Linked DNA regions of Homo sapiens. The protein of the gene in region 2 purifies or fractionates together with the protein of the main gene of each other region. This does not show direct contact. Each region holds a gene or a part of one and is shown on either strand. Other genes may lie near its edges. The genes, in order: CKMT1B, ARHGEF26, DEK, TMLHE, MMUT and PDPR.

Region 1 (4,945 bases), on a different chromosome or scaffold from region 2:
CCCTAATTTGGTGCTGTCTGGCTCTTAGAGTGCACCCAGGGAGATCCCTGGAGTGAAGGAGTCTACAGGCAGAGCGCTAATTTCCAAGTATCAATGCTCCTGGAGAGCTGAGTTGTGATATTACTCCCATTCCCTGTCTATTATAGGTCGAAGTACAGCCTGGGGCCTCCAGGACTGGTCACGACCTTCCTGGTCCCTGGTATTGACTATCAGCTTCCTTGGCCACCTGCTATGAGCCTGTCTCTACAGTAGAAGGAGATTGTGGGGAGAGAAATCTTAAGTCATAATGAATAAAGTGCAAACAGAAGTGCATCCTGATTATTTTCAGAAGCTGATGAGGAATATGGGTAAAATGTTAATGCTTTCCACCCACCTGAGAATCAGTGTTCCTGGGTTGCCATATCTGGAGTCTCTTTCCATCATAAATAATCCCACTGCCTCTTTTCATTTCCTGAAGGCTGCTCCCTCCTCACCCCACCATTAGAAGTAACACAGACAGCTGCAGCATAGCAAGGAGTCTTTACTAGGATGGAGGCAGGGGATGCGGGGGCAGGTCCAGAGCAAGTAGAATGGGCCATCATTAGAATGAGCAGAACTCCTGGGAATCTTGAGTCATCAGCTGGCGATGGGGAGTTAATGCTTGGTGTGGATGACAGGTGTGGGGATGCGGATATCCTGGCCTCTCTCCAGACGCCGTTCACAATCAATCAAATAGTTTACTCCATCGATGACCAGTTGCACCAGCTCCACCTAAGGGACACTAATCTTTGATCTGCTTCCTACAGTCTGAGTTTTTCTTTATCACTGACTGACTTGCCTGCTCATTTCCAATTGCCTCCCCACTCAACCTGAATTTCATTTCAGATTATCTTACATCCCGGAGGCTCACTCACTGCCATATTTCGGCCCTCGCAGACCTATACCTCTCCTTGTCCTAATCCCTTAGGATCTCACCTCTGATTTGCCTAGTCGGTCCAAATTAGAAATATCAAAGACACCGCCTGTAGCAGCAGTGTCCACTCCTCCAGTACCACGTTTTTGGAGTCTTAGGTTCTCCAGGATCTTTGGGAAGCGGCTATCCTAGAGAGGAGATAGGGATTGGGAGCAGGGTCAATAGAGGCAGAGACTAGTCCTACCTGAAAGAGCCCTGAACCTGCTCAGAGCTCTGTCTCCTGAACTTTTTTTTTCCTTTTTTCTTTTTTCTTTTTTAATTTTTTTTAGACAGGGTCTCTCTCTGTCACCCAGGCTGGAGTGATCACAGCTCACTGAAGCCTCGACTTCCCAGGCTTAAGTGATCCTCTCACCTCAGCCTCCACTACACCCAGCTAACTTTTGTATTTGTAGTAGAGATGGGGTTTCACCAGGTTGCCCAGGCTGGTCTTGAACTCCTGGGCTCAAGTAATCTGCCTGCCTTGGCCTCCCAAGTGTTGGGATTAGAGGCATGAGCCACTGTGCCTGGCCTGTCCTCTGACCCTTTAGCCACAACATGTTTGGCTCCTTTCCAAAGGGTCCACTCCCTCCCCATCCACAACCCACCCTTCCTTACTCACACCCCTCTGTAACCCCACAACTCCTTTACTTTGCTTAGCAGGGGCAGTTTGATGTGCACTCCTGCCCGAAGTCCAGTGCCCAGGTTAGATGGACAGGTCAAGATGTATCCCAAACGCTCATTCCACATGAACTCCCAGCCACGTTCTTGGATAAGTCTCTCCACCTGAGTCCACAAAGGTTTTGTTAACGAAAAATCAGGGATATTTCATTAACCCTGGACCCTCCCTTAGCTAGACCCACAAGAACACTAGAAATATGTCTAGAACAGAAACTTGGCTGTGAATGAATGACATTGGTCTTTTTTTAAATGAAAAAGGTTTGTTATTGTTTTCATGCATGCATGATGCAAAATTATGATGTGCATAATAATGAGATTGTGAAAAAATATCTTATGTGGAAGAAGAAAACTCGAAGGAGTGGTGTATTAAGGATGATCTAGGGAAATGAACAGAGGTGGTAAACTGAACTGAGAGATGACTGATTATTCAATGAGGTCTGCATGCATCGATTATCTTTGCTTTGCTAATGAGCCTAGAGCTTAGAAGGGTCCCTTCAGACAGAAGATGAAGGTGTAAGCTTTGCCAGGAAGAGGTAAGATAACATTCTGTTAGCTGTGAACGGAGCACCTGTGTGAATGCAGAGAAAGATGAAAACAGAGCAGAAAAGCCAGATTCATAGGAATAGGGGGCGGGGGGAAGGCGTTTGGCTTCACTTAACCATGTAGTCATGAAGATGACTATTAGAGTTCAAGAGACAAGGGATCTAGCAGAATGATGGTCACAAAGACCACAACCCAACATGAGTAAAGGGATCCTCTTTATAGTTCAGAAGGAACCATGCCATAGGGGATATCTTACATGCTGAACATGGGGGGAAACTCTTCCATCCAGAATAATATTGCAGCTAACACTTTAACACTTATTAAGCACTTACTGTGGACCAAGTACTTTACCTGTATTTCACTTAATCCCCACAACAACCTAAAATGTAGAAAATCTCATTATCCCAATTTTACAGATGAGGAAACTGAGGCATATAATTTAAAGGTACTTCCCTACCCACTCATAGTCAGAATATGTTATCTATTACTTGCCAAAAATAGTAGAAACTTCTCAGAATCTAAAAGAGGAGCTCTTTTTCTTTGCAAACCTAAAATAGAACTGTATGTTTGAGAACATACAGTAAGAATTGAATTGAGTTTATGGGGATTTCTAATGTAGACTTGAATACGGAGACCCAATCCATGTAGGATTGATGATTCAGTTCAACCTCTCATCTAGAGCCACATATTCTAGAACTTGAACCATTCTATCCTCCACCTTCCCCAGTCTCTCTCCGAACTCTCAACTTAAAGCCTAGACCCGATACTTTAACAAGAATGATAGAATCCAGAGTCAAGGCCTACCTTGTCTCAGAACTGGGTGGTTATATTAGAGTCATGAACACAGCAACCTCTCCCCGCCAACATCAATCTAAGCTCGAATGTTTTCCTTATCTGCACACCTCACCATCCCACTGCACACATCCCAGGCACTGACGTGCCATCTCATTTATTCCTTCTTTGCACTCTCTGTCAACAGCCTTGTTCACTTCCTAAGATTCCTGACACTCTTTCTTTTCCTAATCTTAGTGTGACCACATGTCCTGGTTTTCCCAGTATGGTCCCAGCTGGTTTACACCTTTAGTCCTGGAGTGAGTCCTAGATAGTCCTTTTTACTATAAGACATGTCCTGGGTTGGTTGGTAAATTACATAATCTATTTATGCTACTCTTTGGTTTTCCTTATGTCCTCCCACCTAGCTCCCCTACATAGTCTTCTCTAACCTCTTTGAGGCCTCGGCAGAATCTTTCAAACACTCTCTTCATGTTACCACCCTTCTCCATGGAGATCACCCGTGTATGATCCTCCTCATTCACCCAGATCAGGAAGCTCTTCTCATTGTTGTGCCTGAGGGCCGGAGAGGGACAGTGATCAAGAGGCAAGGCAAGAATTGGGAGAGATAGAGGGAAAAAAAGCATTTATGAGGGCATGAAGACAAAAGAGGTAATGAGCAGCTTCATACCAAATTCCACGAGCATCTGGCCAGTCTCGAGCCATTCCTGCTGCAGTCAGCAACGGGGACACAGGCTTATCAAACAGAAAGTGGTCCTGGGAAGAGTAACGGGACTTGGGTTAAGAATCTTCATGGTGGCCCCTGGGCCTTTCAGAGCCCATGTCTCATCTGGCCCAGCCTTCCCCATCTGCTCCCACCAACCAGCACCCTCTTAAGGCCCTCACATCAATAAGCTGCTGCTGTTCAGCCTCTGTCATCTCACTGAGCCTATAGTAACGTCCAGCCAGGTCACCCTTCAGGCCACTCAGTGCATCCACCACAACACGTTCCACCTCTCGTCGCTCTGCTCGAGTGCAAGCTGGAGGCAGACTGAGTCCTCGGATGCTTCGGCCAGTTCTGACTCTAGAGGACAATACATACCTCTCATCAAAGTAGCCAGAACGGATCTGGGAGATAAGGGAAATGAATGTAAGTCACAGAAACACGGTGGGAACTGAGGGCCCCTGGGAAAGGAGAGACCTTCCTTAGGCATTAGAGGACTCTTTGTGCATTCTTCCTGCATGCATTGGAAGAAGAGGCCCTTTGGGAAAGCACTGGAATTGAAGGGGGCATTGCAGACCTTTCCCCAAACCACCCACCTTGGGTCATGGTCATTCTTATCTATCCTTCCATCTCCATATATGCTGCCCCTTAAGATATGATTCTTTCCTTACATTAAGATTAAAAGCTCAGCTGTATAATGACCATGAGTCAGGAAATAAGGTGAAGGGGTTGGAGATACAGAGTGTTGTACACAGGCAATGCAAATCAGAAGTGGGATATTTGAACTCACTTTACTGGCATCTAGATCCGTGGTGTGCTTCATTGTCCGGGGGTCATATCCATTGTGTCGCTCTTGGATCACAGGGTCAAACAGGTCAGCAAATACCTAAGGGGAGTTAAGAGGGAGAGATGGTTAAGGAGAGGGAATCCCTCCCCAGACTTCAATTGTGCATTGATTTCACTGGTTCAGAAAACTTAAGTATGGGGGGCTCAGAGTCTTGGGGGAAAGTGAGAGGTCTTTAGGGGAAAGGAGCTGGGATTACTGGGAAGATGAATTGGATCATCAGGGAGACTCTGGGGACCCCCTACCTCATAGGTCTCCTCATCTCCAGCCACCATGCCCACAGTCTTGATGAAGGGGTGGCCAGGGTTGTCCACGCCAGTCTGGATACACTGATCTAGCGTCCAACCAGTGGGTGTGGTCTTGTCGCAGAGCCGTGCATAGACTGCTGGGGTCAGGTGACTGGCCATGCAGTTGTTGTGCTTTCGGAGGTCTGGGTACTCAGCGCTGGGGAGGG
Region 2 (3,500 bases):
AGTCAGGAAAATCTCTGTTGAGATGTTGGCAAGGCCTGAATAAAGAACAAACAATCCTTGTAAACCAAAGAAAAGGAAAACACAAGGCAAAACCAGCAACACTTTCACCATTACTAACTATACGGGGAAAGGGAAGTCTCTAGTTTCTGAGAATTCTCTGGAACACTGGAAAATTACTGATTTCCAAAGTGTTAAAGTCATTCTCATCCTTAAAGTCATATAAAATCCAAAGCACAGGCATACTAAAAATTCTGTTTTGAGGAGAAGTTTCCCCACACAAAGGAAGTCTAGTTTGTCCTCACTGGCCAAGAGGTTTAAACCACTTTTGGAGTTCAAGTAATGCCTCCCCTTGACCCTGGTCTTGGGTGTGTCACTTGCTGGTCACCTCACAGATCAGCAAGCACACGCCCACCCAAGCTCACCTCCCCACAGCCGCAAACACAGAGGGGCATGCTTGGAATGCCATCAGCGCTTTTCAGCACCTTTAGGGGAAGAACTCTGGGATCTCAGAGAAAGGCATTTGTTTGTTTTGTAAACAAACACATGAAGATGAAGCTCCCTTTTTTTTTTGATGGCTGCTGACTAGGGTGATGGTTGCTGAAGGTTTGGGTGGCTGTGGCCGTTTCTTAAGACCACAGTGAAGTTTGCTGCATCAATTGACTCTTTCATTCATGAAAGATTTCTGTATAGCATGCAATGCTGTTTGATAGTATTTTATCCTCTGCAGAACTTCTTGCAAAATTGGAGTCAATCGTCTCAAACTTTGCCACTGCTTTATCAATTCAGTTTACGGAATATTCTAAATCCTTTGTTGTCATTTCCACAATGCTCACAGCAACTTCACTTTCTTTGCTCATCCTGAAGAAGCAACTCCTCATTTGTTCAAGTTTTATTATGAGATTGCAGCAATTCAGTTGCATCTTCAGTCTCCATTTCTAAATCTAGTTCTCTCGCTATTTCCATTGCATCTGCAGTTGCTTCCTCCGCTGAAGTCTTGAACCCCTCAAAGTCATCCATGAGAGTTGGAATCAACTTTTCCCAACTCCTGTTCATGTTGATATGTTGATCTCCTCCCATGAAATTATGAATGTTTTTAATGACATCTACGATGGTGAATCTTTTCCAGAAGGCTTTTAATTTACTTTGCCCAGATCCATCAGAGGAACCACTGTCTATGGTAGCTGTAGCCTTATGAAATATATTTCTTTTTTCATTACCTTGGTGAACTCTCCAGCTCATTTGGAATATGCTACAGCTTTCACCAACCTGTCCTTGGTTTTTTCTCTAGCCTGTGAAATGCTACTTCTAGTGCCAAAAGATATGAAATAATTTGACATTTTATGTGGGTGCCTTGTAATTTTCACATTTTTCTTATGTCTCTTGACAAAGATTCTTGGCTTGGCCAAACTTCAGTTAGATTTCTGTACCTTCTCCTAGGCTCATCTGTACAGTTCTTCGTAAAATCCAGTTTTAGCAAAGAACCCTACTAAGTCAATTTGGCAAGAATATCCCCTACCCCATCCTCAATATCTGATAAGATTCATTATTCTCCATCATCCCAGAGGTTATGATGTCTAATTACCCTGGCCTGTCTTCAGCAAGAATCCTGTTTGGTTAGTTTAGCCAGAATAGCCCTTATCTCTGATATTTCCTCTCAGTAAGTTTCCATCCACTGACCTCCATCCTGCCCTATGGCTATGAATTCCCACTTGCCCATGCTGTGTTGGAAGTTGAGCCCAATCTCTCTCCCCTACTGGAGACGTTGCTGCAATGGTCCTTACGCCTGTTAAGATGACCTTGCATAAAGGCTGCGAAGCTTACTGCGCTTTAGCAAGTGTCCTTCAATAACTTTTCTTGAATATTCTCGTTAATCATCTAGGAACACTGTTAAAATCAGTCTTAAGGTGAAGATACCTCTTTGGGATCACTTTCTCTAAGATCTTGCTACAATTTTAGGGTTGTTATTCATCAGCTGCTGATCCATTTTAACCACACCATTTAGGAACCCTGGCAGACATGGAGTTGGAGGCAGGAATCTGAGAGGACAAAGAATTAGGGAACTTCTCCTTTCCCTCCACTGTTCCACTCTCTGACCCAATATAATATCTGCCCATGATGATTATTGCAAGAGGAAGTTTCCAGTTTCTAAACAAAAACATTGGTCAGTCATCTTTAAGTGGACCAAAAAATCACTAAGGTGGACTTGAAAGTTAACCCTCACTGCCACTCATCCAATGTGAGAACTAAGTGCACACTAACTGCTGGCGAAACTGCAGGCACCAACAGGACGCCTGTTTTGGTCGTGCATAAACTCTGGATTAGAAAGAGGATTTATCAGTATATTTCCGTAAACTGGGTAGCTCTTTTGACAGAAATCATTGGGCTTTCTGCTCTCTGGTTGAAGGTAGGTGACTGAGAAACGACCTGAATTCCATTACCTAAGAAGGCTTATGGCCTAGACTCAAAATACCAGTTGAGTCATATTCCTTAAGGATAGTGTATCATATTTTTGTCAATGAAAAAAGTAAAATGATTTTTAAACCACTCTATAAAAATAAAGACATCACCTAAAGCACAGTGCATCTATCAGGACTTATAGGGAAAAAATAACAACATCCTTCTCCTGTAAGAAGATTACAATGAAAAGAACAACATCTGTAAAAATTACCCAGTCATAGTGCTTAGCGAACAGTAGGTGCTCAACAAAAACATGAATAGTAGCTGCTGTTTTTAGGAAGTCTGTAAACCAAAGAAAATCAGGTCAGGGAGATACTATCAGCTATTCCAATCTTTTCCCCACATATACTTACTGCGTCTCAGCTCCTAGTAGCATCTCCACTTTCTCATTCGCGTGGTTACTAAGGACTGTCAGAGTAAAGAGGTGACTGGCAGAGCTCTGTCTTGAATAGAGCATTGTGGAGCTGTTCTTCCCTGGAGAAGAATTAAGCTCTTCATTGTCACAAGATTCCACCAATAGCTGATCTCTTAAGGAATAATCATTGACGTTGTAACTTTCTTCACTGTAAAGGAAAGGGAAAAGAACACGTCAATTATTCAGCAGATAAGACTGACATTGTCAGTTTTCGAGGCACATTTTGGTGGAAACAGCAAGGAGTGGGCAGGAAGGAGAGGGAAAGAATGACTTATTTTAAACTATGAATTGGAATTTGAATTCTATCTACTGATTATGAATCAATGTAACCCCCTCCAATTAAACCTAATTACTATTTTTATGGATGTAACACACTAAATTGCATCTCAAGTATTGACATCATCCTGGAACTGTTATAATAAGTGATCCTTGCATCCTTACATGCATCTTGGTCATGCTCCAGCAGGTGTACCTCCCCAGCTTCCACATCTCTATTTGCAGAATGAAGGAGGAGCCTTCTACTCATGCTCTGGGTAACAAGACCTCACCCCCCAAACCCCCCATCTCCAAATGACCATGCATTGAAGAGAAGAGCCCCAGAGGTCTGCTTGCTTCTGGCAAGACACCC
Region 3 (5,236 bases), on a different chromosome or scaffold from region 2:
GATAGAACTTTTTTTTGGATACAGCACAAACTCCAGTTGACAGTAAAATGAAGCTTCTAGGTATTTTGTATTGTACATATTTCCTCCTACTGGGTGTTCAAAAGAAATTTAAATTCAAGTACCTTTTGTGATAAAATGTTTTAGATTTGTGCACCCATTGGCAAAACAGGAAAGTTTCCAGATAGGTATTGTATCATTGAGAATGCAGCACAGATAGTGTGGGCTTCACACTATAGACACAGAATATAGCTTTTTCTTAAAGCCAAATTTGGGTGATAGGACACTTTAAATATCCTTAATTTTGGCAACCACTAGCAAAAAAACTTGTCAGAATAATTTAACCAAGCCCCTCTCCACTTCTTTTATTTAAAAGCACTGATTCAATTGCTAGGAATATTTTTGCAGATTTTTCTTTACAGTATTCCATAGGCAGGTCCACTGGAAAACTGCAGAAAAATGTGAGCTCTCCTGGTAAATAGTATACATTTTATAAGCTATATTTTAAAGGCCTAAGAACATGGCAAGTATTTACTTTTATCTTTTTTTTAAAAACACTCATGACAGAAAACAGTTTAATAATATCTCATTCTAAAATAAAACACTGGTTGCAGGGTCTTCAGGATGCCTATTTTGCCAAGAAACTTCAGTATACAGGTTAGAAATATGCTTTTGTTTTTGAACAATAATATACTGGTTTGCTTTAAAGAAGGGACTAAATATGACTTTAAAGAGACTTCAAAATATTGAGTATTTTAAAAATTTAAAAGTAGGTCAGTTTATAACGAGTAAATACCTAACACACCAAGAATGTGCAGTGAACCTCAGGCATTTAAGACACCTCCCCCACCGCCCGCCCCCCGCCCCCCCCAATCAAAGTGTGGTCCCAAAACAAGCCAACAGCTGTATATCTCAAAAGTTAACCCAAGACAACTCTGATATTTAGGTTATTTGTTGAGACTCATTGGTACTGACTGGCAAGTATTCTGCTTTAAAGTATCATGTATTAAAATGTTTAGACAGCATGTGTTTTAAAGTGATAAATGCAAAATGTTAAGTTTGAAATGGTTAACAGTAAATTATTATGTTAGTTTCCAGGCACTTGAACTGTGCTACAAGTAGGGGAAAACCTACTTTAAAGTATGGTAAATGTGTGTTTTAAACTTCCTATCAAGTGACATACTTCATTTGATTTTTTGTTTAAGAAGCCATGGTACTTTTTTCTTGAGTTACTTTGGATATGTTTTTTCAATGCCATCTGAAGATTTTGTAATTGAGTAGCAGTAAATATACAGATTTACAATGTTTTAACTACAGTTCATGAATAGCTGGTTGTGTAAAACTAATAAAAAACTAGACTTTCACATGTACTCTGTACTGTAGTGGTGATACATCCATTTAATAAGTGTGCGTACTCATCAAGAACTTTCATACAGAACAACTCCATTTCCTCACTTCCAAATACTCTATGCATGACTACTTACCTTCTTTATAGCAAATGGTCATAAAATTAACCTTAATTATTCAGTTTTGTGAAGTCACTCCAAGAAAATGGTCCATTACCACAAAAGAGTATTCCAAATTGTATAGGTTATAGGGCTGAATCAATTTAAAAATCCCTTTTCAGAATTATTCCCCATAAGGAAATGCTATATACACCTATAAGATATCAAATGCAAGTGACTTAAAACACCAGTGATTTAGATTTATTTTTATTGACAAGGTTTATAAGAACAAATATTTAAAATCGAAGGCCAATTATTAGGTCTCATTTAGTTGCTTATTTTGTTCACTTGTATTTACCTTTCCCTAGTGTCTGAGTAACTATCAAGAAACAAACCTGTGAAAATACCTGTTAACATTCAACATATATTTTTATATATTTCTGTTCTATGATGCAAAGATATTTTTCAACACTTAATTGGTGCAACAAATGTGTCATTGTGTCATAAACAGCATGTTTTAAAATTCAGATTTAATAAACTGATTTAAGACAGTAAATTTGAAAGACAAAATTAAGTCTCATTCAGGAGTGGTCCATTATGTTGATCATCTAGAATCAACACTGATTAACCAAACTCTGAAAGCCAAGAGCCCCAACTCCAGAGAAACATTAAATTTCTTTAATGTAAAAGTATATTATTTTTGAGACACACTTTGTCAGAGACATCCACGATTGCCTGCACATTATATTCTGGCATTATAATCTGGTACTTTAGTCATAATCGTGAAGCTGGCTAGGTTTCCAGTAAATATCAGCATTTTATATGGGCAAAAGCAGTTAATAAAAATCAGTTCATTTACTGTAAGCCAAATGTGCTTGTACTTAATCCCACCCTTTCCCAAAGTTTTTGAAGCTTTGATAGGTTGATTTTTGGTCTGTCCTTATATAATATAAAACGTACCTACAGACACTTTTACAGAGTTAATACTAAAATTACAAATTGATGACACTTTCGAGGCAAAGCAGGGTAACTGTTCCTTCAGTGTTGCCATCACTGAATTGACTTTCACTGTTCCATCATACTGTTTGGCTGAACACTGACATTCCATAGTCTACAACTATAAAGATACCTACCTATGTGAGTTTAAAAAGTGATCTGCACAAAAGAAATAAAAAAACTTTATATACAACCAATTGTTTTTTAAAAATACAAAAATAACATCTGTCACTTTTGTCATGCTGACAATTTGACATATATACACATGCAGGAGAAAAGTTCCAATTCAGTGATCTGGACAACTGTAGCTTGTATATTTTTAATATGATGGACACACTGCCGCTGAATTTTCACACTGACAGAGATGTGTATTCAAAATATTTCATATACTAAATACTACAATCTCTGTATGTATAAATCCTGGTGATAATAGTTTTTGTTCTACTTGATTAAAAGTATGCCTTAAGCAAGCTAATATTAAGTGCACTAAAAACCACAACAGCTCAAGAATCTATGACCTTATATAAAGAAATCCAAAATGTACAAAATACAACTATAAAAGCAAGGAACAATTAATGCCATGCAAGATTTTAAACTAAAAATGGCATAGAAATGCAATTTAAAACAGCAAACTCAAATTCACATAACACTCAAGATAAAAAGGTCAGCAGTAAGTTCTACTAACGTTGCTTAACAAGGATTTAGAAAAGGAAATACATTCTCTTTGCTGGTATAATGGTATAAATCAGATCTTCAAATCTATGGGAACGAGTCATCTTCTCTGTCCTCTATCTCAAGAAATTAGCTGTAATGAAAGAGAAACATTATTTTGCCATAAATCATAAACCTTTATCCCATTTTTTCCACATCTATTTTACTATTTTGTCCTTCAAAAATCAGTTGAGATCAATACAGAATTACAGCTACCTGCTGATCTTCCCCTCACCTTTGCCTCGTAGACAGGAACTTCCTCAAGTATTTGTGAGAGCAACGTTGAGATGCCCAGCTACCCAGGTACACCATGAGGCCACATCATAATCTGAGTTCAGGTCTTATCACTAACTGTTCAAACTTTAATTTTAAGCTTTAAAGTGGGAATGAGAAGAAATAAATTTCCCTATTATGAAGAAATGTGAGGATCAAATGTGATATTTAGTGACATGAATATTTTGAAAAATATGGAGTATTTTATGTAATTACTTTTGTCTTATATTTCTAAAGTCAAACTTGAAAGACTGAAATATTTACCTCTTTTACAGTTGTTTTTATGAAATCTTTTCTTTCAGTTAAATCATAAGTAGGATAATTTTCATAGACCTATGTATAGTGAAAAGGAAAAATAATGTTAAAAGCAGATTTTAAAATCCAGTAATATTGTCTTTGAATAAAAGCAGGAAATCTGCTACGTGCAAATAGCCACAACCATCCCAACAGTACTCTGGTTAACCCATATGGAATTCTATTCCAAATGAGTATTTTAATAATATTGTATATGATGTGGAAAACTAGCATGCAAACATTCTCAGTGTTTTCAGGCTGAGAGTCTGGAATGAATTAACTAACCATAAACAAGCCAGATGTGATGGCTCACGCCTGTAATTCCAACACTCTGGGAAACCTAGGTGGGAAGATCACTTGAGCCCAGGAATTCGAAACCAGCCTCAGGCAACCTGGTGAGACCTTGTGTCTACAAAAAATTTAAAAAGTAGCCAGGCATGGTCATGCATGCCTGTAATCCCAGCTACTGAGGAGGGTGAAGCAGGAGGATGGCTTGGGCCCAGGAGGTTGAGGTTGCAGTGAGCTGTGTTGGTGGCACTGCATTCCAGCCTGGACCACAGAGTGTGGGGAAAAGAAAGAGAGATCAGATGGTTACTGTGTCTGTGTAGAAAGAAGTAGACCACAGGAGACTCCATTTTGTTCTGTACTAAGAAAAATTCTTCTGCCTTGAGATGCTGTTACTCTCTGAAACATGTGCTGTGTCAACTCAGGGTGAAATGGATTAAGGGCTGTGCAAGATGTGCTTTGTTAAACAGATGCTTGAAGGCAGCATGCTCGTTAACAGTCATCACCACTCCCTAATCTCAAGTACCCAGGGACACAAACACCGCGGAAGGCTGCAGGGACCTCTGCCTAGGAAAGCCAGGTATTGTCCAAGGTTTCTCCCCATGTCATAGTCTGAAATATGGCCTCGTGAGAAGGGAAAGACCTGACCGTCCCCCAGCCCGACACCCTTAAAGGGTCTGTGCTGAGGAGGGTTAGTATAAGAGGAAGGAACGCCTCTTTGCAGTTGAGACAAGAGGAAGGCATCTGTCTCCTGCCTGTCCCTGGGCAATGGAATGTCTCGGTATAAAACCCGATTGTACGTTCCATCTACTGAGATAGGGGAAAAACGCCTTAGGGCTGGAGGTGGGACATGCGGGCAGTAATACTGTAAGGCATTGAGATGTTTATGTGTATGCATATCTAAAGCACAGCACTTAATTCTTTACCTTGACTATGATGCAGAGACCTTTGTTCACATGTTTATCTGCTGACCTTGTCTCCACTATTATCCTATGACCCTGCCACATCCCCCTCTCCGAGAAACACCCAAGAATGACCAATAAATACTAAGGGACCTCAGAAGCCGGCCGGATCCTCCGTATACTGAACGCTGGTCCCCTGAGTCCCCTTATTTCTTTCTCTATACTTTGTGTCTTTTTCTTTTCTAAGTCTCTCGTTTCACCTAACAAGAAACACCCACAGGTGTGGAGGGGCAACCCACCCCTTCAACAGAGCAAGACCCTGTCTCAAAAACA
Region 4 (5,565 bases), on a different chromosome or scaffold from region 2:
AGAGGCTAAATAAGTTTACAGAATTATAGTTATATAGTAAAAGATCTTCTGGAAAATTCATCAAGTCATCAAAGAATGATAATCCAAGTAGGCTTTTACAAGCCTACTTGGCACTCTCTCCCCTTGCCCCCATCCCTGTCTTCCATCTATATAGGAACTCAGAATGTTTGAGCTAGAAGGGGCTAATCTTTATTTTACAGATGGAGAAAAAGTCAGTGACTCACTCAAGATCACACAACTAAGTACTATAGGTGGAACTAGAACCCCACCTTCTTGCTGCTACAAGTTCAGTACTATTCAATGCTGCCTTCCTCTTCTACATGATGTAGGACATTGCTGTCTAATTATATGACATCAACACAATACAATAAAATTACTTTGTAAGTGGCTTCACCTGCTGTGCACACCCCACCCAAAAAAAGTTGAAAACCAACCCTGAAATGCTTTAGAAAATCTTCAGGATAAGCAAAGGAAGCAGCAGAAGGAGTGAAAGACTATGTTGACAACTTGTCTCTCCTTTTTACTTCTCTCTCTTTTCCTCCCTCCCCTTGGTAAAAAAGTATCACACTTTGGATAATTTGGAAAGCATAAAAAAGTATGAGGAAATTAAAAGTCACCATGTTTATCATTCTATCACCCAGATGAAACTATGATTGACAGCCTGGCATCATTCCTTCCAGTTTTTCTGTACATTCTCTTATTTTATGTAATTTATGTATATAAATATAGTTTATGTAATTTATATATATAAAATTTGGGACTCTGCCATTGTCACTTAACATTTTAACAATTTTTAAAATTAAATTTTATCATTTTAAAAATTCAACCTTCATTAAAATTAATTTTTAAAGCTTACAAAATATACATTACCAAGATTTACCTAACCCATCTGTTATTCTGGGTATGTACATTTATTTTTAAAAAATTTCCTATTATTTATTAGTGATCATCTTTAACCATATTTCTATAATTTAGAAATAGAATGTATATTACATTTCTTAAAAGTTCGTATCTTTGTATTTAGAAATTTCAAAGATATAAACTTTTAAGAGTTCTGATATACATAATCAAATTACTTTTTAGAAAGTCTACTTATCTTCATTCCCTCCAACAGTACATATGTGTCCATCAAAATGGAGTATTCTTATTTTTAAAATATATTTTTTTCTAATTTGGTAACTAAAGTGGAACTGCTATCTTGTAATAATTTTAACTTATTTGCTTACTAAGGCTAATAAGAATACTTTCTATATTTGTTAGACATCTATGTTTCTTTAATGCAGGGACTACCAAACTATGGTTGATGAGTCAAATCTGGTGCTTGGTTTTGTAATGCCTGTTTCAGAACACATGCTGTCCATGTTGTTACATATTGTCTATAGCTCCATTCACTCATATAGCCCACAAAGTTTGAAAATATTTACCATCTGGCTCTTTATAGAAAATGTTTGCTGACTCCTGCTTTAATGATTTGTCTGTTCAGTCCTTTCTCACATTTTTCTATTGGAACAATTGTACTTTTCTTCTTTTTTTTTTTTTTTTATTATACTCTAAGTTTTAGGGTACATGTGCACATTGTGCAGGTTAGTTACCTATGTATACATGTGCCATGCTGGTGCGCTGCACCCACTAATGTGTCATCTAGCATTAGGTATATCTCCCAATGCTATCCCTCCCCCCTCCCCCGACCCCACCACAGTCCCCAGAGTGTGATATTCCCCTTCCTGTGTCCATGTGATCTCATTGTTCAATTCCCACCTATGAGTGAGAATATGCGGTGTTTGGTTTTTTGTTCTTGCGATAGTTTACTGAGAATGATGGTTTCCAATTTCATCCATGTCCCTACAAAGGATATGAACTCATCATTTTTTATGGCTGCATAGTATTCCATGGTGTATATGTGCCACATTTTCTTAATCCAGTCTATCATTGTTGGACATTTGGGTTGGTTCCAAGTCTTTGCTATTGTGAATAGTGCCGCAATAAACATACGTGTGCATGTGTCTTTATAGCAGCATGATTTATAGCCCTTTGGGTATATACCCAGTAATGGGATGGCTGGGTCAAATGGTATTTCTAGTTCTAGATCCCTGAGGAATCGCCACACTGACTTCCACAATGGTTGAACTAGTTTACAGTCCCACCAACAGTGTAAAAGTGTTCCTATTTCTCCACATCCTCTCCAGCACCTGTTGTTTCCTGACTTTTTAATGATTGCCATTCTAACTGGTGTGAGATGATATCTCATAGTGGTTTTGATTTGCATTTCTCTGATGGCCAGTGATGATGAGCATTTCTTCATGTGTTTTTTGGCTGCATAAATGTCTTCTTTTGAGAAGTGTCTGTTCATGTCCTTTGCCCACTTTTTGATGGGGTTGTTTGTTTTTTTCTTGTAAATTTGTTGGAGTTCATTGTAGATTCTGGATATTAGCCCTTTGTCAGATGAGTAGGTTGCGAAAATTTTCTCCCATGTTGTAGGTTGCCTGTTCACTCTGATGGTAGTTTCTTTTGCTGTGCAGAAGCTCTTTAGTTGAATTAGATCCCATTTGTCAATTTTGGCTTTGGTTGCCATTGCTTTTGGTGTTTTGGACATGAAGTCCTTGCCCATGCCTATGTCCTGAATGGTAATGCCTAGGTTTTCTTCTAGGGTTTTTATGGTTTTAGGTCTAACATTTAAATCTTTAATCCATCTTGAATTGATTTTTGTATAAGGTGTAAGGAAGGGATCCAGTTTCAGCTTTCTACATATGGCTAGCCAGTTTTCCCAGCACCATTTATTAAATAGGGAATCCTTTCCCCATTGCTTGTTTTTCTCAGGTTTGTCAAAGATCAGATAGTTGTAGATATGCGGCATTATTTCTGAGGGCTCTGTTCTGTTCCATTGATCTATATCTCTGTTTTGGTACCAGTACCATGCTGTTTTGGTTACTGTAGCCTTGTAGTATAGTTTGAAGTCAGGTAGTGTGATGCCTCCAGCTTTGTTCTTTTGGCTTAGGATTGACTTGGCAATGCGGGCTCTTTTTTGGTTCCATATGAACTTTAAAGTAGTTTTTTCCAATTCTGTGAAGAAAGTCATTGGTAGCTTGATGGGGATGGCATTGAATCTGTAAATTACCTTGGGCAGTATGGCCATTTTCACGATATTGATTCTTCCTACCCATGAGCATGGAATGTTCTTCCATTTGTTTGTGTCCTCTTTTATTTCCTTGAGCGGTGGTTTGTAGTTCTCCTTGAAGAGGTCCTTCACATCCCTTGTAAGTTGGATTCCTAGGTATTTTATTCTCTTTGAAGCAATTGTGAATGGGAGTTCACCCATGATTTGGCTCTCTGTTTGTCTGTTGTTGGTGTATAAGAATGCTTGTGATTTTTGTACATTGATTTTGTATCCTGAGACTTTGCTGAAGTTGCTTATCAGCTTAAGGAGATTTTGGGCTGAGACGATGGGGTTTTCTAGATAAACAATCATGTCGTCTGCAAACAGGGACAATTTGACTTCCTCTTTTCCTAATTGAATACCCTTTATTTCCTTCTCCTGCCTGATTGCCCTGGCCAGAACTTCCAACACTATGTTGAATAGGAGCGGTGAGAGAGGGCATCCCTGTCTTGTGCCAGTTTTCAAAGGGAATGCTTCCAGTTTTTGCCCATTCAGTATGATATTGGCTGTGGGTTTGTCATAGATAGCTCTTATTATTTTGAAATACGTCCCATCAATACCTAATTTATTGAGAGTTTTTAGCATGAAGGGTTGTTGAATTTTGTCAAAGGCTTTTTCTGCATCTATTGAGATAATCATGTGGTTTTTGTCTTTGGCTCTGTTTATATGCTGGATTACATTTATTGATTTGTGTATATTGAACCAGCCTTGCATCCCAGGGATGAAGCCCACTTGCTCATGGTGGAAAAGCTTTTTGATGTGCTGCTGGATTCGGTTTGCCAGTATTTTATTGAGGATTTTTGCATCAATGTTCATCAAGGATATTGGTCTAAAATTCTCTTTTTTGGTTGTGTCTCTGCCCGGCTTTGGTATCAGGATGATGCTGGCTTCATAAAATGAGTTAGGGAGGACTCCCTCTTTTTCTATTGATTGGAATAGTTTCAGAAGGAATGGTACCAGTTCCTCCTTGTACCTCTGGTAGAATTCTGCTGTGAATCCATCTGGTCCTGGACTCTTTTCGGTTGGTAAGCTATTGATTATTGCCACAATTTCAGAGCCTGTTATTGGTCTATTCAGAGATTCAACTTCTTCCTGGTTTAGTCTTGGGAGAGTGTATGTGTCGAGGAATGTATCCATTTCTTCTAGATTTTCTAGTTTATTTGCGTAGAGGTGTTTGTAGTATTCTCTGATGGTAGTTTGTATTTCTGTGGGATTGGTGGTGATATCCCCTTTATCATTTTTTATTGTGTCTATTTGATTCTTCTCTCTTTTTTTCTTTATTAGTCTTGCTAGCGGTCTATCAATTTTGTTGATCTTTTCAAAAAACCAGCTCCTGGATTCATTGATTTTTTGAAGGGTTTTTTGTGTCTCTATTTCCTTGAGTTCTGCTCTGATTTTAGTTATTTCTTGCCTTCTGCTAGCTTTTGAATGTGTTTGCTCTTGCTTTTCTAGTTCTTTTAATTGTGATGTTAGGGTGTCAATTTTGGATCTTTCCTGCTTTCTCTTGTAGGCATTTAGTGCTATAAATTTCCCTCTACACACTGCTTTGAATGCGTCCCAGAGATTCTGGTATGTGATGTCTTTGTTCTCGTTGGTTTCAAAGAACATCTTTATTTCTGCCTTCATTTCGTTATGTACCCAGTAGTCATTCAGGAGCAGGTTGTTCAGTTTCCATGTAGTTGAGCGGCTTTGAGTGAGATTCTTAATCCTGCGTTCTAGTTTGATTGCACTGTGGTCTGAGAGATAGTTTGTTATAATTTCTGTTCTTTTACATTTGCTGAGGAGAGCTTTACTTCCAACTATGTGGTCAATTTTGGAATAGGTGTGGTGTGGTGCTGAAAAAAATGTATATTCTGTTGATTTGGGGTGGAGAGTTCTGTAGATGTCTATTAGGTCTGCTTGGTGCAGAGCTGAGTTCAATTCCTGGGTATCCTTGTTGACTTTCTGTCTCGTTGATCTGTCTAATGTTGACAGTGGGGTGTTAAAGTCTCCCATTATTAATGTGTGGGAGTCTAAGTCTCTTTGTAGGTCACTGAGGACTTGCTTTATGAATCTGGGTGCTCCTGTATTGGGTGCATAAATATGTAGGATAGTTAGCTCCTCTTGTTGAATTGATCCCTTTACCATTATGTAATGGCCTTCTTTGTCTCTTTTGATCTTTGTTGGTTTAAAGTCTGTTTTATCAGAGACTAGGATTGCAACCCCTGCCTTTTTTTGTTTTCCATTGGCTTGGTAGATCTTCCTCCATCCTTTTATTTTGAGCCTATGTGTGTCTCTGCACGTGAGATGGGTTTCCTGAATACAGCACACTGATGGGTCTTGACTCTTTATCCAACTTGCCAGTCTGTGTCTTTTAATTGCAGAATTTAGTCCATTTATATTTAAAGTTAATATTGTTATGTGTGAATTTG
Region 5 (5,565 bases), on a different chromosome or scaffold from region 2:
CAAGTAGCACATGTTACTTAGGCTTTTCTAAAGTACCAAGACATTGTAAACAAGTGGGTCTTTCATATGAAGTATTTTGAAGGAACACTAAAGATTAATAGTGACAAGAAAAAAAATCAAAACTTAGAGAATATTTTAGTTATATTTTAAGTTTCCTTTAGATAAATAACAATGTATTGATAATAATATGCATATTGCTATACTTTTATTTAAAAATAATCTCGAGAGCGAAAGAGGGACTAAGAAAAAGATATACAATGAAAAGCACAGTAAAAAAGTTTTCCCTGGGTCCTAACTCTGCTCTGCCAATAATTTGTCAAAATAAAGTTGCATAAATCCATTTTTTTACAAATTGTACCACCTGTAAAAGAGTCTAAAATATACTGCTCAAGATGCCACTAGTATTATATAGCATATATAAGCAGAGGTACAGAAAATTTATAGTCATCCCTCAGTATCTGTGAGTGATTGGTTTCATGACCCACTGCCCACCCTATCCACAGATAGCAAAATTCAGGGATGTTCAAGGCCCTTATATAAAATGATGTAGTGTTTGCATATAACCTATGTACATTTTCTTGTATACTTTAAATCATCTCTAGATTACTTATAATTCCTAATACAATGTAAATACTATATAAATAGTTGTTATAGTGTATGGTTTAGGAAATAACAAGAAAAAAGTCTGTACATATTCAGTACAGACATATCCATTCTTTTTTTCTCAAATATCTTCAATTCATTATTGGTTAAATCTATAGATGTGGAACCCACAGATATGGAGGTCCAACTATATTTAGAGCAAGAAAAAACTCAACTCCAAATTCTCCATAAAAATGCCCATTTTTCTTTATCTTTTATTGGAGAAAGAAACAATAAACACATACAATTTAAGAGAAAAATAAAGTAAATCGAGTAAATAACGAAGTGATTTGGCACAAGGTAGTAGGGTGCTATTGTAGATATTGGATCACTGTAAGCTTCTTAGATAAGGTGACATTTGAGCAAAGACCTAAGAAGTACACCTTTTCTGGTTTACTAGAAAATTAGTCATCCTTAGATTAGGTAGTTTGCTATAATTATCTCAACAACAGATTACTAAAATTCAGGGAGTGAAAACAGATGCTAAAATTAATTAGGGCTGACGGTTACAGAAAAATAATTTAATATAAAATTACTGTTGAGATAGTTCACATTTTTAAAAAAATTACCACCACAGGTAAAATATTGTTAAAACCATAGGTAAAAGGAAAGCGTAAGAAAATATAAACTTGAGTTCATTACTAAAGAGAGCTCAGAGTATTGCAGCAGAAATATATTTTGCTATAAAAATATCTGATTCTAGCTATGAAAATTAATTTTTGTAATAGAAGAACTTTGATTTGGTCATGGTCCTAAGAAAGTTCAAAACTAGGAAAAAGTTACATCAGAATATCCATTTCTCCTAAACTGGCTCTAGAGTCAAAAAGCCTGCATTCAAATCCCAGCTTTGTCACTTATACTATAAACTTGAGCAACTAAATGAGACTCTCCAATCATTAGTTCCCTCATCTGTAAATGGAAATAAAAATAGTAACTACCTGTTAAATAAAACAATACACAAAAACAACAATTCAAGAAAAGGATTTAGTACAGTATGGGTACACAGTAAGTGCTCAATAAATGTTAACTATTATTGCTATATTGTCATTAATGAATTTCTCTCTGTTGCCCAAAATAAGGCTTATCATTATTTATGATAAATGAAATCCTTCAGGCTATGAAGATATAAAGTTAATAACCTAAAGTATAACAGAAAAGAAAGGGTTTTCCAAAAATAAATACTATTAGATTTTTATAGATTGAACTAAAAAAAAAGCCATACATTAAACAATCTCAGGAAAAGTAAACAAAGAAAACCATTAAATGTATAAGCTCCCTACCTTGGAAACAGCAGTACTTACAAATGCCAAAGATTAAGAGGCCAAAGTAGCTTCATACAACAAAAATATATAGGTTACAACAGTGACAATTAATTTGATTTATCTATTTTAGTATTTCATATGCTCTGGATCAACTCAGTGACAAACTAAAAATAAGAAGGGAATACGATACTCTAGTTTCAATCAAAATAAATAAAGTTTATTGTAAACTGTACCTTACTAAAGCACTACCAAATATAGTTGAATTTTAAAAATCAAAAAGCAAGTAATTATTTCAAAGTAGTATCAGATGCCATCATTCTGGTGAAAGAAATTACAATAAGAAGCCCTGGGTTCAAATAATAACTCTAAACTTTATTCTGTTTTTAATTTTTAGTAAGTTACATAATCATCTAAGCCTTGGTTTTAATCTATAAATTATGGAAGGTATTATTATTGTAGTGTGGTTTTTAATAACAACTTATAAGTTTCACAGAGGTAGATATCATGGTTTAAAACAAGTTTTTGGTGTCAACAGACTAAGACTGAGTCCTGGTTGTCTATTTATCCTGAGCAAGTTTCTCAATGCCTTATCTTTAGTTCCCTTACATTTGAAATGATGGAAATTAATACACACCTCATGCTGTTGTAAGGATTAATTTAAGCAGGACAGTTTAAAAGCTTAGCCAGAGCCCAGAACACAGAAAATACTTAAAAAAAAAAAAAAAAGCAAGCTATTAATACCTTCTTAAGTTTTTCAATCTGCCTGTTTCGCACTGAAGTATTATCAATTGCCAGAACTTCTACAGCGTCTTCTTTTTCCAACTGGTACTTATTTACTCCAACAATTACTTCAGAACCTGGTAATTTCCCAAAGAAAAATTTTATTCACAAATAATTACCTAATTGTAATGCTCTGGTTATGATGTATTTTCCTTATAAATTTAATATCTTTAAGTAGTATTCTTAATTCTTAATGCAACTTCAATATAGATCAGCAAATCCCAATCTGAGAAGGGGGTGTGAGAGGAAAGTAGAGGTATATGTCAGAGTCTCTGTAAGGAAGGACTTTCATTATTCTACCAAACTATTAATATACACTTTCCCACGGTTTCTAATAAATCTTTTAACACTTCGAAATAACAATCAGAGCAGCTGCCATCTAAGATTTATAAGGTAGAGAATGAATACCCAGTAGCTTTTCTAATATTTTTTTGAATTCAGCCAGTCACTTTTAAACAAAAAAAGAACCCTTCTATAATCTATTAGTAAATCAAAATTACAAAGATACTTCCTTACATGATAAAGAATATATTTTACCTCAAACTACCAGATTATTACTCTTATATAAAACTTCCCACAACCCCTACCCCTGGTTATACTCCTTCATATTTCCTTCATAGCACTTATCATGATCTATAATTCTTTATTTACTTGTTCATTTTCCTCTCTTTTACTAGAATGTAAGATTTGTGTGCATAGAGGTCATAGAGGTCATGTCTGTCCTGTTCACAGTTGTATGCCCAGACATAGCAAGTGCCTCAAACAAAATAAACTAAAGAAGTATTCATTGAATGAATGAATACTCCAATGCAGAGAACACTGTGATCATCAACAGTGTCATCTTCAAAATGTTAATGACATCTACCCACAAACATGTACATATATACAATGGTTAGACATCCACACACACTTTGTACATATGCTTGCCTGTGTGCATCCATGTATGTGAAAATACATATATAGATAGATACAAGTATATGAGAAAAAATTTACCCAAGTTCCATTTTTCATTATTTTTGTTTTGTTAACTATACATGTTATCTTCAAACAGAAATGAATTTCTTTTTAACTACTGGATTTCATATATGAACTTTCTCACTATCTTACCAGAATCTATTCTAGCTTGTCTTCGGGCAGCACATTCTTCAATTCGAAGTTTAGGTATTCCCTCAGCTACAGCTTTGGCCATTCCACCCATTTCTTCAATTTCATTAATGAGCTAAAAAGAAAAACATTAACAAAACTAAAAGAGAATATTAAAAATGTGTGTAAACTATATAAATTTGTTATGAGTGTTATATAATTACTAATATTAATAAAATTATAAACTAAATGTTAATGTTTCATAAGAACAGAATTAAATAAACATCAAAGTCATTAATTAGAATTTGTGTGTTTATAGTTACTTGAAAAGACAACTAACAAGTATATTCCAAAAAACACAAAACCTCTTAAGTCTTGGGAGAAAATTAAAGCAACATCAATTCTCTAATCTTTATTTTTAGGTACATAAAGTTTTCATAATTACATAAAGTCTGTAAGAAAAATATATTTTAAAATGCAATTTACTTTTGATTTGAGCTGCAGAGAAACAATGTAACCTCATCTTTAATGAAATCAGGAAACATTTAAACCTTCAATCATAGCTTCATATATGAAGGCAGAAAACAGACAGTGGAATGATATATGACTTAGCAGAAAGGATCAAGGTCAACCTGCTTTTCCCTGATGAATTCAAGAAAGAAGAATCTATATTGGATTCTACGTAAGTGTAAAATGAGAAGCTAAAAAGAAGAAGACAATTTGAGAGTCTGCAACCACCCCTCTCTCATTCTGTCAGGAGAACCAAAGTTTACTGTCTACAGAAAATGAACTCGAGACACAATGAACTATCAAATACCAAATACAGACAGAAGTAAGGGTAAGATGTCTTACTGAAATAAAAGCCTGTACTCTGACTAAAGACTAAAAACAAAAAGCACAGAGAGAAAATGGAGACAATACAGGATGTAAAAGAAAACTTCAGAAAATATCATGAATTCAGAATATAAATGGATTCTGTACTAATGAAACAAATGAAGATGACATTAATTATAAGGGGGAAATTAGAAAACAAAAATGAGCTCTACGAATCAAAAATATAATACATGAATGTAAAAATAAGTAGAAATATAAAGTTGACAAATCTTTAAGAACACAGAAAAAAAAGGCAAACAGATATACTATAGAAAAGATAAGAGCAGGCAGGGAGCAGTGGCTCATGCCTGTAATCCCAGCTCTTTGGGAGGCCAAGGTGAGTGGATCACGAGGTCAGGAGTTTGAGACCAGCCTGACCAACACGGTGAACCCCCGTCTCCATTAAAAATACAAAAATTATCCGGGTGTGGTGGTGTGTGCCTGTAATCCCAGCTACTCGGGAGGCTGAGACAGGAGAATCGCTTGAACTAGGGAGTCAAAAGTTGCAGTAAGCCGAGATCACGCCACTGCACTCCAGCCTGGTGACAGAGTAAGACTCTGTCTTAAAAAAAAAAAAAAAAAAGATAAGAACATCAGCACATCAGGATATTATTTAAGGAGGTCCGTAGCTTATGACTAGGAGTTCTAGAAAGAGAACCCATATGAAAATGACAAGAAAAATACTGTCAAAGAAATAATACAAGAAAATTTCCTAGAGCTATAAAAATATTTTTTAAAAAAAGGTGAGATGAAAAAGACCCAATAAAGGTTCAGTACCATGTAGGAAAAAATACACCAAGTTATACATCAATACAAAAAATAAAGAAGAGGTCCCAATACTTTCAGAAAGAAAGATCCTGAATGAGAATGGCATCAAATTTCTGATCAGAAATATTGAAAGCCAGAATAAAAATCTAGAATAAAA
Region 6 (5,565 bases), on a different chromosome or scaffold from region 2:
AGTCTGTTGCTCAGAGGGGGAAACTGATGTCATTTAACAGGAGGTCAGGATTTCTGGTTCTACTTCAACAAACAGTGCATAATTTTGGACACAGCATCAGATTTCCTGACTTCTTACAAAGGACAGCTAATTAAAAACGTGTCAATCTGTAGTAATTAGTTGGAGATTAACAAGGGCAGAAGAGAATCCAAGTCTTAAAACTCTATGTGGGATACATTTCTGATGAAGCTTCTATTTGACTAATATACTGTGATGATGGCACTATTCGATTTTAAACTATGGAGACAGCTTTTATTATTTCGATTTGGATCCTGGTAAGTGGTGATACTGCTATGTAACAGTTAAAGCACAAATGTATTGCCATAGTTAAGGTTGAAGAGTTATGTCTATGTGTAACTAAATTCTTCTGGATTCAATTACAAATACGTTTTCCTTTACAAAGATGGCTTTGGAGGGGTGCAAATGCTACGTGTTTGGAAGAGCAGAGGAGGCCTGCAGCTCTCAGTCACCTGTCTCCATCTTCGGAGGTAAGTCTGCTCCCTGCTGGTAATGCCTGCATCTGCCCAAGGGCCTGTTCCTCCTCTCCCAAGGCCTTCACAGCTGGTGTTCACTGGTTGGCCCTCCAGCCGGCAACACCTCTCCTCCTCTCTGCCTAGAGGCAGCATCTCTCGGCTAGTTAAGTACATACTTGCTCCAAGACAACTAGACCCCCAAACAGAATTCTAATCATATGCTCCTCTAACAAGCCAACCAGAACCTTCCAAAAAGGTTTAGGCACTAAAGTCAGTAATCACTAGGAGTGGTCTAGTTGGGGAAGTGGCAAGAAATGTCTAGAAGGAGCCAGCGTAAGTGGGTAAACAGAGATCCCAAAGAAACACCAGAGAAGGCAGACACCTGAGCATTTTAAGCTGCTCTAATGAAATGGAAGGATGTCCCTTAATACACTTATAGACCTATCAGAGCTAATGCTTCCAAGATACCAACACGCCAAAGGCTAGAGTTTTACTAACCAAAATGTCTTATAGCAGTTTATTTGCACTTAAAAAAAGTCAGATTAGGGCAGTTGATATGCAAGGGGAAAATGAAGCATTGAGGCTGGACAACAGTCCATGATATCTAAGTTTCACCTTGGGAAAACAGAGACACTGCCTGAAAGCGCAGGGCACTTCTGGGCACCCACATTGTCTCCTGCTCCAGAGGATATGGAAGGGTGGGTGGAGGGAAACAAAGAGCCTGGGGGGAAAGGAGGAAAAGCGGTCTCTAGCCTTATGCAACGTACACCCTTTGGACTCAGAACTCTCAGTGGACTAACGTGGGTCACCTCTGTGTAGCTCTGCTCTGTGCTGGAGAGTCAAACCTGGAATTCCGGCAGCTCTCTGGAACTCAGCACAGCCCGCAAGGTTGAAAGGCCCAGGACAACACACCTGATCCCTTCCCCTCCCTATTCTAAAGGGAGAGAAACATGACTTTATGGGCCAACTGTGAAAGGGACAAGTGAGGCTGACCTGACAAAGTCAAACGCACTGGGAGAAGGGGAAGGAGGAACGGCTGAACTTTGGACAGCTGAGAGAAAAGCAGCATTGTTTCCATAGCAGAACACTCAGCATCACTGGTGGGGACTTTCTAAGGTCAGACCCTTTTGACTGGGAAAAGCAACACACAAGGCAATATGGTTTTTCCCTTTCAAACACTGTGGCTTACTTGTTTACTCAACTAAGAAAGAAAAAGCAACCTTATTATAGAGATTAGCAAGAGATGAAGAAAATTATAGGGAGGCTGCCCTGGCCCAAAGGTCTGCTAATGGCTTCTGCAGGGAGGATGAGGATGGTGCTAGGTTAACTGCTTGTCTCCACTACAGACCAGAGAACGTCCATGCGATGCCTCTTATCAGTGAGGTAGATAATCATCCTCTTGCCAGAGGTATCGAGTGCCAGCCCACAGCACAGCAGAACAGGAGAACGAGCTGCCGGGCTGCAGGCACGAGCTGCCCCTCAGGGCTGCATCCGACACACGGCAACCCCACCAGAACTAATAGGCTGCTCCAAGAAAATGGAACCCAAGGGAGAGGGACTCGTGCCCTGAGACCTGCACCACCCCGGCTTGCCCTGCCTTGAGATGCAGAATTTGAAAGCAGCTGTCACCATCACTCATGTCCACAGTGGAGCTTGCTTCTGTCCTGTCAGACATACCTCCTGCCACCACGAGAAGCTGAGTGAGGGGTGGGAAGGGAAGAAGAGCCCAGAGTGAATATTAGGAGGAGGAGGTGGAAGGGCAAGGAAGGCTGCAGAGCAAAAAAGTTTAAAGTAGGTCAAGTTCAAAATTATATCAAGGAGATAAGAGATGGGAGGCAAAGGCTCCAGAAGAGGAACAGAGGCGGAAGGAAGAGAAGCTCCAAGGTGACGCCCACTCTAGGACAAGATGATGGGGAGGAGGTGAGGCTGCCCTGGTGGCATCACTTCCCATGTAAGTCACTCAGCTCCATGTCATCCTTTCGGCGCTTCTGGGTGAAGAGGGAGGCGACAGGGTAGAGCTTGGCCTTGGCCTGGAAGCGGTATCCCGCGATGTCAATCTCATACTCTCCCCGGTTGATGAAATCTGCTGTCACCACTTGCTCTTCCCCCGTGTCCTCAGAAAAATTGTGCACAAAGCCCAGGCAAACGTGGCGCTCCAGGCTGTAGCTGTAGGCACTGCTGGTGGTCTTGCCAACATACTGCCCATTCCGGTAAATGGGCTCTCCCCACCAAGGCCAAAGGTCTAGGTCTGAATCATGGTCGTCCAGGATGAACATGGTGAGGCGTTTATACACTCCATTCTGCTTCTGCTGCAGGAGGGCGTCGCGACCAATGAAATCCATGCCCTAAGAAAGAAAGGAAACGCCGAGTCATCCAGCGACACTCAGACCCTCGGCACAGAGAGCAGCACCGTGGGAAGGGTCCCCTGGTGTCACTGCAATGGGGCACAGCCGCCTCCTCCCACAACCCTGCCAGCTTTTGGGAAACTGTGCGATTTCTACCATGTGAAAAACTGCATGTGAAATATAAAAGACGCCGCGGTAATTTTTGTAACAACAGAGGTACGCATTTTGTTTCCTATTTTATAAACATAAAGTCACAAGACCAGATAGAACAAAAACGTTTAGGAAGAAAACTCACTCACTTAATAAAATACCTTATCAGTCCAGTACTTTAGAAAAATGTTTTTATATTGGCCAGTCGTGGTGGCTCACGCCTTGAACAGAGATGAGGCAAACCTCATCTCTACTAAAAATACAAAAATAAGCTGGGTGTGGTGGAGTGTGCCTATAGTTCTAGCTACTTGGGAGGCTGAGACAGGAAAATCACTTGAACCTGGGAGGCAGAGGCTGCAGTGAGCCAAGATTCTGGTGGAGTGTGCCTATAATTCTAGGGAGACTGAGACAGGAAAATCGTTTGAACCTGGGTGGCAGAGGCTGCAGTGAGCCAAGATTGCACCACTGCAGTCCAGCCTCGGTTGACACAGCAAAACTCTGTCTCAAAAAAAAAAAAAAAAAGACTTTTTTATATAATCCCAACAAGACCATGCACATCTATATTCAATGCATACACACATATATACACATATGTACAACAAATAAGACTAGAATAAACTATTAACGGTGATTATGGCCAGGCACGGTGGCTCACGCCTGTAATCCCAGCACTTTGGGAGGCTAAGGCGGGGGGATCTCCTGAGGTCAGGAGTTCGAGACCAGCCTGACCAACCTGGAGAAACCCCATCTCTACTAAAAAAAGAAAAAATACAAAAATGCCTTCTCATGCTCAAGTGATTCTCCCACTTCAGCCTCCCAAGTAGCTGGGCCCACAGATGCGCCACCACACCCACCTAATTTTTTGTATTTTGGTAAAGACAAAAAATACAAAATTAGCTGGATGGCTTACAGCTACTCGGGAGACTGAGGCAGGAGAATCGCTTGAAGCCAGGAGGCAGAGATTGCAGTGAGCTGAGATCGCGCCACTGCACTCCAGCCTGGACAACAAGAACGAAACTCCGTCTCAAGAAAGAAAAAAAAAATAGTTACTACCATTAAATAGACAAAATATGGGTGATTTTAATTTCCTTCTTTATATTTTCCAAAATGGGTTATTACCTTTTTTTTTTTTGGAGATGGAGCCTTGCTCTGTCACCCAGGTGGGAGTACAATGGTATGATCTCGGCTCACTGCAACCTCTGCCTCCCAGGTTCAGGCAATTCTCCTGCCTCAGCCTACCGAGTAGCTGGGATTACAGGTGCCTGCCACCATGCCCAGCTAATTTTTATATTTTTAGCAGATACGGGGTTTCACCATGTTGGCCGGGCTGGTCTCGAACTTGTGAACTCAGGTGATCCGCCCAAAACAAAAAAACCAAAAAAATTAGGCCGGGTGTGCTGTCTCACGCCTGTAATCCCAGCACTCTGGGAGGCCGAGGAGGGCGGATCACCTGAGCTCAGGAGTTCGAGACCACCCTGGCCAATGTGGTGAAACTCTGTCTTTACCAAAATACAAAAAAATTAGCTGGGCATGGTTGTGCATCTGTGGTCCCAGCCACTTGGGAGGCTGAAGTGGGAGGATCACTTGAGCATGAGAGGGCATTGCAGTGAGCCAACATCGCGCCACTGCACTCCAACCTGGGTGACAGAATGAGACCCCACCTCAAAATCAAAAACAAAAGAAAAAAACCACAAAAATTAGGCAGCTGACTATAGGACGACTAGTTTGTACAAATATTCGTGGCATGTTAATGCATCACCATAATTAACTCAGAATAGCTTCCCAGAAAGCACTCAGTCTTTTAGACAGCAGAACACTAGAAATAAGTGGGTTTTTTTGTTTGTTTTTCAATTGTAATTCAGAGACAAGGTCTTGCTGTATTGCCCAGGCTGAGCTCAAGTGATCCTCCTGCCTTGGCCTCCCAAAGTGCTAGGATTACAGTTGTGAGCCACCGCACCTGACCAAGTGTCATCTATTTACTATGTTTTCTTTTTTCTGAGACGGAGTCTTGCCCTGTCACACAGGCTGGAGTGCAGTGGTGCGATTTTGGCTCACTGCAACCTCTGCCTGTTAGGTTCAAGTGATTCTCCTGCCTCAGCCTCCCGAGTAGCTGGAACTACAGGTGCTGGCCACCACGCCCAGCTACTTTTTGTAAATTTTTTTTTTTTTGAGACGGAGTCTCGCTCTGTCGCCCAGGCTGGAGTGCAGTGGCGTGATCTCGGCTCACTGCAACCTCTGCCTCCTGGGTTCACGCCATTCTCCTGACTATAGGCGCCCGCAACCACACCCGGCTAATTTTTTGTATTTTTAGTAGAGACGGGGTTTCACTGTGTTAGCTAGGATGATCTCGATCTCCTGAACTTGTGATCCGCCCGCCTTGGCCTCCCAAAGTGTTGGGATTACAGGTGTGAGCCACCGTGCCCGGCCTACTTTTTGTATTTTTAGTAGAGACGGGTTTTGCCATGTTGGCCAGGCTGGTCTCGAACTCCTGACCTCAGGTGATCCACCCGCCTCAGCCTCCCAAAGTGCTGGGATTCAGGCGTGAGCCACCATTATTA

Evidence for each region.
Region 1: the proteins of ARHGEF26 (region 2) and CKMT1B purify together in Homo sapiens (affinity purification with mass spectrometry, with the first as the bait; one large-scale study listed by BioGRID). This does not show direct contact.
Region 3: the proteins of ARHGEF26 (region 2) and DEK purify together in Homo sapiens (affinity purification with mass spectrometry; one large-scale study listed by BioGRID and IntAct). This does not show direct contact.
Region 4: the proteins of ARHGEF26 (region 2) and TMLHE purify together in Homo sapiens (affinity purification with mass spectrometry; one large-scale study listed by BioGRID and IntAct). This does not show direct contact.
Region 5: the proteins of ARHGEF26 (region 2) and MMUT purify together in Homo sapiens (affinity purification with mass spectrometry, with the first as the bait; one large-scale study listed by BioGRID). This does not show direct contact.
Region 6: the proteins of ARHGEF26 (region 2) and PDPR purify together in Homo sapiens (affinity purification with mass spectrometry; 2 studies listed by BioGRID and IntAct, with this or other methods). This does not show direct contact.

Annotation. Positions count from the first base shown.
Region 1 is NC_000015.10:43,594,962-43,599,906, reverse strand, and holds the end of CKMT1B (creatine kinase U-type, mitochondrial precursor), read right to left. Parts: coding exon of another isoform or gene 4,936-4,945; coding exon 4,737-4,935; intron 4,534-4,736; coding exon 4,438-4,533; intron 4,052-4,437; coding exon 3,830-4,051; exon of another isoform or gene 3,829-3,829; intron 3,701-3,828; coding exon 3,615-3,700; intron 3,500-3,614; coding exon 3,376-3,499; intron 2,532-3,375; exon of another isoform or gene 1,715-2,531; coding exon 1,580-1,714; intron 1,081-1,579; coding exon 955-1,080; intron 751-954; coding exon 634-750; 3' UTR 501-633; downstream 1-500. Other genes in the region: STRC (stereocilin precursor), read left to right, coding at 147-235. UniProt on the Homo sapiens protein: Reversibly catalyzes the transfer of phosphate between ATP and various phosphogens (e.g. creatine phosphate).
Region 2 is NC_000003.12:154,239,890-154,243,389, reverse strand, and holds part of ARHGEF26 (rho guanine nucleotide exchange factor 26), read right to left. Parts: intron 3,021-3,500; coding exon 2,811-3,020; intron 1-2,810. UniProt on the Homo sapiens protein: Activates RhoG GTPase by promoting the exchange of GDP by GTP. Required for the formation of membrane ruffles during macropinocytosis. Required for the formation of cup-like structures during trans-endothelial migration of leukocytes.
Region 3 is NC_000006.12:18,222,488-18,227,723, forward strand, and holds the end of DEK (protein DEK), read right to left. Parts: intron 3,756-5,236; coding exon 3,687-3,755; intron 3,244-3,686; coding exon 3,232-3,243; 3' UTR 1,373-3,231; downstream 1-1,372. UniProt on the Homo sapiens protein: Involved in chromatin organization.
Region 4 is NC_000023.11:155,514,488-155,520,052, forward strand, and holds part of TMLHE (trimethyllysine dioxygenase, mitochondrial isoform 1 precursor), read right to left. Parts: intron 1-5,565. UniProt on the Homo sapiens protein: Converts trimethyllysine (TML) into hydroxytrimethyllysine (HTML).
Region 5 is NC_000006.12:49,445,025-49,450,589, forward strand, and holds part of MMUT (methylmalonyl-CoA mutase, mitochondrial precursor), read right to left. Parts: intron 3,904-5,565; coding exon 3,792-3,903; intron 2,762-3,791; coding exon 2,646-2,761; intron 1-2,645. UniProt on the Homo sapiens protein: Catalyzes the reversible isomerization of methylmalonyl-CoA (MMCoA) (generated from branched-chain amino acid metabolism and degradation of dietary odd chain fatty acids and cholesterol) to succinyl-CoA (3-carboxypropionyl-CoA), a key intermediate of the tricarboxylic acid cycle.
Region 6 is NC_000016.10:70,153,767-70,159,331, reverse strand, and holds part of PDPR (pyruvate dehydrogenase phosphatase regulatory subunit, mitochondrial isoform 1 precursor), read right to left. Parts: intron 2,993-5,565; exon of another isoform or gene 2,858-2,992; coding exon 2,453-2,857; 3' UTR 1-2,452. UniProt on the Homo sapiens protein: Decreases the sensitivity of PDP1 to magnesium ions, and this inhibition is reversed by the polyamine spermine.